Linked DNA regions of Homo sapiens: region 2 is linked to region 1. Evidence: fine-mapped expression QTL. A gene starts in region 1. The other region holds a variant in brackets. All regions are shown on one strand. Distances are between the middles of the regions.

Region 1 (4,380 bases):
CGTAGAGACAGAGGTCTCAGTATGTTGCCCCGGCTAGTCTCAAACTCCTGGGCTCAAGCAGTCTGTCCTCCTCAGCCTCCAAAAGTGGTGAGATTACAGGCATGAGTCGCTGTGCCTGGCCTCCAAGCACTTTCAAATGTATCAACTTAATCCTCACAAAACCCTGTGAGGTCGGTACTGTTTTCATACCTATTTTATAGTTGAAGAAACAGACACAGAGAAGCAAAGTCACTTGCTCACAGTCACGTGGCTAGGAGAGCAAGGATCTGAAGCAAGGCGATCTCTTAATTACCAAGTGATGTTCCTGGAGTAAGGCTCTGTTTGTTTCCTTTCCTGTAAAATGCTGCATGCAAAAGTATAACACAGTAAGTAAAGAAGTCAGTTAGCCTGCACATACTAAGACCTAACCAAAGGAGCTTATTGTTTTTCTCCAACTTCCATGATAGGTAATTAGATAGTGGAGACCTCTGCTGGCCAATATGGTAGCCACTAACCGCAGCTGGCTCTTCCAATTAAAATTACATAAAGCCAGAAATGTAACTCCTCTGTCTCACTTGTTATATCTCCAAGGCTGGATAGCCACATGTGACTGGTGGTGGCTGGATTAGCTAGTGCATATAAAACATCACTGCAGAAAGTTCAGCTGAGCAGCACTGAGTTAGATGGCCTCTGAAGAGGATGTCCCACGGAGAGAATCCAGAACTCAGGATCTTTTTTTTTTTTTTTCTTTGCGACAGAGTCTTGCTCTGTCACCCAGGCTGGAGTGCAGTGGCGTGATCTCGGCTCACTGCAACTTCTGCCTCCCAGGTTCAAGCAATTCTCCTGCCTCAGCCTCCCTAGTAGCTGGGACTACAGGCCTGTGCCAACATCCCCAGCTAATTTTTGTGTCTTTTTAGTAGAGATGGGGTTTCACTATGTTGGCCAGGCTGGTCTCGAACTCCTGACCTCGTGATCCGCCCCCCCTTGGCCTCCCAAAGTGCTGGGATTACAGGCGTGAGCCACCGCGCCCGGCCAGCTCAGGATCTTTTGGGATGGTCTGTTCACCTCGCAGAAGTGGCTGGCATGAGCAATAGGAGCCCAGAGTGGAACCAGGGCCTTCTGGTTGTCAAGTGGACTTGCTGTGTGACCTCCTGTGAGTCTCTGCCCTCTCTGAGCCTCTCACTCCTCACCTGAGATGAGGGAGTTGGCTGAGGTGATGCCGATGCCCCTCACAGCTTTGACCTCCTATGATTCAGGGGCCTGTGTGTCACCTGGTGGCACACAGATGGCAGGGAGGGTGTGAGATGGCCACACATGGGTATGAGGCAGAGCCACAGCCCCCCCCAACACGCACATGGGCTAGTCACTGGGACACACACAGAGCTCACTCACGGCCACAGAGTGGGCGTGGGTTTCCCTTTTTCCTTGTTTCTGTTTCTCTTAGCCTCGGCGCCTCCCTCCCTCCCTCTCTCTCTCTCTCTCTCTCTCTCTCTCTCTCTCTCTGGCTCTTTTAGCCTTGGTTTGTTACAATCTCCCTTTTCAAGCCAGCCTCTGTCCCTCCTACTCAACCTGCTTTATCTCTAGGCCTTCCTCCTTCCTCTTCCACAGTCTGGCTTCTCACATTGTCACTCTAGGTATGCACTTCCCATTGATTTCCTCTTGCTCAGTGGCCTCTCATCCTGCCACCCCTAGCCTTGCTGGGGACGTGAACCCTCTCCCCGCGCCTGGGAAGCCTTCTTGGCACCGGGACCCGGAGAATCCCCACGGAAGCCAGTTCCAAAAGGGATGAAAAGGGGGCGTTTCGGGCACTGGGAGAAGCCTGTATTCCAGGGCCCCTCCCAGAGCAGGAATCTGGGACCCAGGAGTGCCAGCCTCACCCACGGTACAATTAGACAGAGGGAAAGGGAGGGAGCCCGGGGGTGGGGGTAGGGGAGGGTGGAGAAGCTTCCGGACTCCTTGGGGTTAAAAGGGAAGGTCCCGCCAGGGGTCCCTGGGCAGAGGATACCAGCGGCAGACCACAGGCAGGGCAGAGGCACGTCTGGGTCCCCTCCCTCCTTCCTATCGGCGACTCCCAGGTGAAGCTACCTGCACCCCACCCGGGTTGGGGTGGATTGCGAGAGGATGGGTGGGGACCCCCGGGCCACAGGCAGGAGCCGGCTTAGAGCCTCGGTTTCTCCACCTGCGGGACGCGGAAGTCCCCCCGCTGTGAGGTTGAGAAAGAGGCTCCCACTGGCTCCGAGCCTCGGATCCCCACCCCGCGCGTGAAGGAGGGGGAAACCTCGGGCGCGGCGTGGCTGCAGCCAGGGTAGCTGGGGCGCGGAGAGCGCTCCACTCGGGCACAGGGAGGACGGGAAGATGCCGCGAGGGGCGTCATTAGGGTAATTGTGCCCATTACCGCTGTTCCAGCCCGAATCTCCCGTCTGCCAGCCCCTGGGGTTATCGGCTGCAGGTCAAAAGGGTGCTTGCGGGCTGGGGTGGCCCAGGCTGGGCGGATGAGCGCGGCGAGGTGGGGGTCTCTAACGGAGCATCTGTTTTAACCCGCCCCTGCACACACCCCAGCAGATCCTGGCCATGAGAGCTCCGCACCTCCACCTCTCCGCCGCCTCTGGCGCCCGGGCTCTGGCGAAGCTGCTGCCGCTGCTGATGGCGCAACTCTGGGGTAAGGTCGGGGGCAGGGGGCGGGGAGAGGCGCCGGTGGGAGGCACGGGCGGGAGGAGAATGTGTTCCCGTCACCAAGCCCCGCGCACCTCTCCTCCCCCGAGACCCCAGCACCCACCCAGCGCTCCGGAGCACGGCCCGCCCCCAAGTCAGCTGGGCCCTTCTTCTGGCTCGGCCCCTGGGTGACCCGCCCCACTCAGGCCCTGTCCGATTTCTGCCACCCGGATCCTCGCTCTTCCGTGGACTCTTCGCCGCGTTCTTTCTCCTCCTCTTACGCCGCCCCATCCCGGCCCCGCTCCATTTTACACTACCGTGTTTTGTTTTGTTTGTTTGTTTGTTTGAGACGGAGTCTCGCTCTGTCGCCCAGGCTGGAGTGCAGTGACGCGATCTCGGCTCACTGCAAGCTCCGCCTCCCGGGTTCACACCATTCTCCTGCCTCAGCCTCCCGAGTAGCTGGGACTACAGGCGCCCGCCACCAAGCCCGGCTAGTTTTTTGTATTTTTAGTAGAGATGGGATTTCACCGTGGTCTCGATCTCCTGGCCTCGTGATCCGCCTGCCTCGGCCTCCCAAAGTGCTGGGATTACAAGCGTGAGCCACCGCTCCCGGCCACACCACCGTGTTTTATCCTGAGTCTTGCCTTACCGCTTTTTGCCCTCTCCCCTCACTTTTTTTCTTCCTCTTTCCCTTTCTCTCTCTTTTTTCTTTTTCTTTCTTTCTTTTCTTTCTTTCGTTCTTCTTTTCCTTCCTTCCTTTCCTTCCTTCCTTTCGTTTGTTTCTTCTTTCTTGTTTTACTTTCTCTCTTATTTTTTCTTCTTTCTTTCTTGTTTTTTTCTTTCTCTCTCTTTTTCTTTCCTTCTTTTTTTTTTTTTTTTTTTTTTGAGACAGGGCAGTGCTCTGTCTCCGTGGCTGGAGTACAGTGGCCCAATCAGAGCTCACTGCAGCCTCGACCTCCTGGGCTCAAGCGATACTCAGCCTCCAGAGTAGCTGGTACCACAGGCATGCACCACCACATCCGGCTTTTTTTTTTTTTTTTTTTTTTTTTGAGACAGGGTCTCACTCTGTCGCCCAGACTGGAGTGCAGTGGCCCAATCTCGGCTCATTGCAACCTCCACCTCCTGGGCTCAAGCGATCCTCCCACCTCAGCCTCCCAGGTAGCTGTGACTACAGGCGCATGCCTCCGCGACTACTTTTTTGTTGTTGTTGTTGTTGTTTGTTTGTTTTTGTAGAGACTGGGTCTTGCTGTGTTGCCCGGGCTGGTCTTGAATTCCCGAGCTCAAGCGGTCCAACCGCCTCGGCTTCCCAAAGTGCTGGGATTACAGGCGTAAACCACTGCGCCCCACCCCTCTCCTGGTTTTCAATCCCGTTTTGTTATTCACACCCCTTCCTCTCCCCGATCCCCGAGTTCTATCCCCGCACCCTTACCTCCCCGCCGCGTTCAATCCCCGCCCCTCTATCGACCAGCGACGTTCTAGCCAGCTCTCCAGGCGCGCTGCGTTCAGTCCCTGCCCTCCAGACCCACCCTATTCTGTCTCATTACTCCACGCTACCCTATCCCAGCTTCCTTCCACTTTCACGCGCTTCTTCTCCTCCCATTCCCTTCGGTGCACGCGAAACCCCCAATATTTCCCTACCACCCTCGCGTTCTGGCTGCGTCCCCCGTCCCCGAACGCAGTCCAGTGCCACAGCCCAGCTCCAACCCCAAACCCAGACCCTGCCCTCCGTGCTTTGATTCCGTCCCCTTT
Region 2 (4,380 bases), 110 kb before region 1:
ATGGGCAAGAGTCTAGATTTAGGGAAGTTTTAGTGCTTCCTCCAGTCCTTTGATTTCTTCCTATCAGGGCTACTGCATAAAGTGATTGTTGTGAGATGTCCCTTTCCTCGTTCGGGTGCTGCATGTAGGTAAATTTTTTTGGATCATGTTGTTTAATTTGCCAGATGATCCTGTGCCCCTTTGGAAACGTTTCTCATTCCCTGGGTTTGGCTTTAGAGGAGGGAGATCATGAGCTGCTGCTTCACTCTCTCCCTCAGCTCAACCCAGAAGTCCAATCCTTGAACTCCATTTTCAAAGACAGAGACAGAAGAAGGCCCAGGAGGAGGGCGTTCTAGGAGGAGGGTCCCCAGTGTGCAAGGACTGAGGTATGAACCAACAGGGCATGTTGCAAATGATTTGGAAAAGACCAGAGGGACCAGTGGGTTAAGTGGTGAAGATGGAGGAGTGGACTGAAGTGGGAGAGTGATGTCACGAAGAGGATGTGATGGGAGGTTCAGGATCCAGGAGCCATGGATGGGCTGTGAGCAGTGCGGAGAGAGCTCAGTGTGTCCTAAAGATTCCCACTGGACTGTGCACAATACGTAGACTGCAGAGAGTAAGGCGGCCTAGCAGTCACAGGGTGGGCAGATGAGGCTGAAGAGGTGGGCAGGATCCAGATGCTACCTAGACCTGATTTGCAGGCTGAGGTTATTTCCTGGAAAGTTGCAGAATCGCTATTTTGCAGGCAAGTGACACAGACATATAAGTACTAGTTGCCACCAGAATCAGGAGAGGTTCCCAGCAGGACCTTTGTGTTCAAAGCACAGCGATCCATCAGTGCTCGGCATACACCTGTGCCAGGAGCTCTAACGGGATGTGACTCCTGGAATGGTGACCACAACCTTGCAAGTAGGGCTTCTCATTCCTGTTTTACAGAGCAGGAAACCAAGGTACAGAGAGGTAGGAATTTGTCTGTCTTTTAGTTAAAAAAATAAAAGGGAGGGCACAGTGTGGATTCAGGTTTGAGATACTTTGACTCTAAAGCCTGTGTGCTTTTCACTCTGCACATAATTCATAGTGTTATCATAGCTCATCACGTTGAGGGCTGTTAATTCTACAAGAATCAGCCTCTGACTTCTCCCTTGCCTGGAGGGGCTGTGATCCCTCAATCAGGGTGAGTCTCTGCAGTTTCTCATCTGTGGATCTTGATCTCCGAGTACTCGGTGTCAGTGGCCTCCTGTCCCCGCGAGTCCCAAGGCTTCACCATCTGGAAGCTGAGGGATGCATACTGGAGCTCTCCTTCCCCCACTGAGGAGCGGGCAGAAGCTGGGGGAGGCTGGTCTGGGGGACTGTCTTCTGCCCAAGGTTCAGTCAGGGGCCCCTGAGACATGGGAGAGAGAAGTGAGTCAGAGCAGACAGTGAGGATGGGGCGCGGTGGCTCACATCTGTAATCCCAGCTCTTCAGGAGGCTGAGGTAGGCGGATCACCTGAGGTCAGGAGTTTGAGACCAGCCTGGCCAACATGGTGAAACCCTGTCTCTACTAAAAATACAAAATTAGCCAGGTGTGGTGGTGTGCACCTTTAATCCCAGCTACTCAGGAGGCTGAGGCAGGAGAATCGCTTGAACCTAGGAGGCAGAGGTTGCAGTAAGCCAAGATTGTGCCACTGCACTACATCCTGGGTGACAGAGCGAGACTCCATCTCAAAAAACAAAAACAAACAAACGAAAAAATGCACTTGAGGCAACAGCCTCACTCACTTCACCCTTGTTCTTGCCCTAGTGGAGAGGTAGGTGCTTAAAAGGTCAGAATGTGGCCGGTCACAGTGGCTCACGCCTGTAATCCCAGCACTTCGGGAAGCCAAGGTGGGCAGATCACAAGGTCAGGAGA[C/T]TGAGACCATCCTGGCTAACACAGTGAAACCCCGTCTCTACTAAAAATACAAAAAAATTAGCTGGGCGTGGTGGCAGGCGCCTGTAGTCCCAGCTACTCCGGAGGCTGAGGCAGGAGAATGGCTTGAACCCGGAAGGTGGAAGTTGCAGTGAGCAGAGATCGCACCACTGCACTCCAGCCTGGGCGACAGAGCAAGACTCTGTCTCAAAAACAACAACAACAAAAAAAAAAAAAAACAAAAAAAGTCAGAATGTGCACTGCTGCAGGCTATAGAGTTTGGGATTTTTACTCTAGATCAGGGGTTGTCAAACTACAGTATCTGAGTCATATCCAGCCCACTCTTTATGTTTGTGAATAGTTTTATTGGCACACAGCCATATTCATTTGTTTACACAGGGTATATGGCTTCTTTCTTGCTACAACAGCAGATTTGAGGAGCTGCAATGAGACTGTGTGGCCCATGAAGCCGAAAATAGTTTCTATCTGTCCCTGACAGATAGTATTTGCTGGCTTCTGCTCTAAACGGTATTGAGGGGTGGGGGAACAGCTGTTCAAATGCAGAGGAACTGGACGATGATGTCTTCTGGACAGTCCCCCCAGGCAGGAAAGGAGAGGAGACAGGCAGACAGGTGAGGGAACAAAAGACAGAGATCCTCAGGCCTCAGCAATGAAGGGTCAGGATAGGGAGCAGAGACAATAAAAGCTGTTCTTAGGGGAGGAAACCAACCAAACATTGTGATTTGGGGCTACAGAGAAGAAAGGAAGAACAGAGAGGAGGTAACTTTGGCTACGCCCAGCTGATTAGTCCTGGGGGTCATCCTGTGGGAGGTGTCCAGGCTACATGCTGGCTGTGGAGAGTCCACATCACTCACCTGAGAGGCTGAACCCCTGACAGCGTTTGCATCCTCTATGCCCGTATCTCCCACGCCCGCTGCTGGCCTTGCCGATTTCTTCCTGCAGGACCTCACTCTGAGTGAAGAGACCAGAGAGCCTTTCAGTGTGGTCAGATTGGGGTGCGGTGGGCAGACCAGGTACCCCCATGTGTTTCCTATTAAGGGACTGCAGGGGTGACTGAGGTGGGAAAGCAGTGGTCCAGTCTTAGAGACCCCAAGGTTGAGAACAGAGGCTCTCTTCTCCTGGACAGTGGGTACCAAGGTTTGCCACAGACTCAAAGCTCCTCAAACACAGGCCCACATGGAATTCTCACCATGCACCTGTGACCTCCTTCTTGCCCCAAGCTCTTGACCCATCCAGGTCCCTCCAGCTCTGGCTTCAGGGATCCAGCTTCCAGCCTGTCCTCCCCCAGGGCTCTCCCTCCCTCCCTCTCTAGGGTCCATGCTTACACAACGAAGATGACGCAGAAGGACAGGAAGACCAGGGCTGTGGCTCCAGCTCCCCCGACCACCCCCTGAGTCACTCCTGATGTGGCTTTGCCTGTTGACAGATGGGAGTTATTTTTGTGATATATCATAGAGAATTGGGTCTCTTCTCCTCCCACTTCCTGTAGGGTCCTAGACTTCTATTTCCACTTCCCCTTTCCAGACACAAAGAACAGGAATGAGAGAGAGCAGGACATGGAGAGACTCTTCCTGAGGCCAGTGAGGCGTGCAAGTGCCAGCCATTCCTTTTGGGGTTTTTTTTCACAATTTTAATATTTTATCCATTAATGAATTTGTTTTGCATTCAATTTTTACTTTTTTTAAAAGATTATTGCATTGCAATATGATTTCATTTGATTGCTGACTTGCTGGGCTTTTTCTTTTTTTTAATTTGATGCTCAAAGCAAGTATCTCAGTTGTGTGACTCCAGTTCAGCCCTGCAAAGAAAGGCGCTTGTCTCCCTAAACACACCTGTCCGGCCCCATCCTGTCCCCTCTGAGATCCACTCCTGCCCTCTCCCCACCCCACAACCCTTCCCTGGCAGGAAGAGGACAGTGGTGCTGTGGGTCCCAGGGAAGTTCCAGACCTCACAGCTGAGCACAGACCAGAGCGGAGCTCCTCTCTGAAGGTCCACGCTCAGCAGTTACTAAGGGTGGAGGAGGTGTGTTCTCCTCTCCAGCCCCTCCCCAGCATACTGGTGCACTCACTCTGCAGGGAGACGTTCAGGTAGACCTGCTGAGAGCCGAGAGGGTTCTGAGCTCTGCAGGTGAATTCAGCTGCATCCCTCAGGTGCACCCAAGGCAGCTCCAGCACCCCCGGGTTTGAGGGCTGTGAGGGGCACAGGGTCAGGCCTCTCCAGCTCAGGCTCAGCCTGGCAGGGGGATTGCTGTCAACTGCATCAACTGCACAGACCAGGCGCAGAGACTGGCCCTCTGGGAGTGACAGAGATGAGCCATTTCCCAAGACTGTGGATACTGTAGAAAAAGAGACAGAGGGTCAGAGAGATACATAGATCTGGAGAAAAAGGAAGGATACAGAAAGAGACTGATGACAGCAACTGACACACAGACATAGACTGAAGTTCTGGAAACACACACTTTCACCACTCACTGCTGGGAATGTAAACTTCTCCC

Evidence for each region. PIP is the estimated chance that this variant, and not a neighbour inherited with it, causes the effect.
Region 2: its variant is the best candidate, but not a certain one, in a credible set for the expression of KLK10 in lung (TOPMed, PIP 0.89).

The regions. Positions count from the first base shown.
Region 1 is chr19:51,017,301-51,021,680 of GRCh38, reverse strand. KLK10 (kallikrein related peptidase 10) reads left to right here and starts at 1,972. Exons shown (of 6, transcript NM_145888.3): 1 at 1,972-2,054; 2 at 2,542-2,638. The coding sequence starts at 2,551.
Region 2 is chr19:51,126,871-51,131,250 of GRCh38, reverse strand. It overlaps SIGLEC9 (sialic acid binding Ig like lectin 9), which reads right to left. Exons shown (of 7, transcript NM_014441.3): 4 at 3,955-4,221; 5 at 3,212-3,302; 6 at 2,741-2,837; 7 at 941-1,360. The coding sequence ends at 1,172. Among named protein-coding and RNA genes, the nearest start is that of SIGLEC9, 4.2 kb to the right of the region's middle. RefSeq lists an enhancer at 2,275-2,324. The variant C/T (reference allele first, on the strand shown) is at 1,869.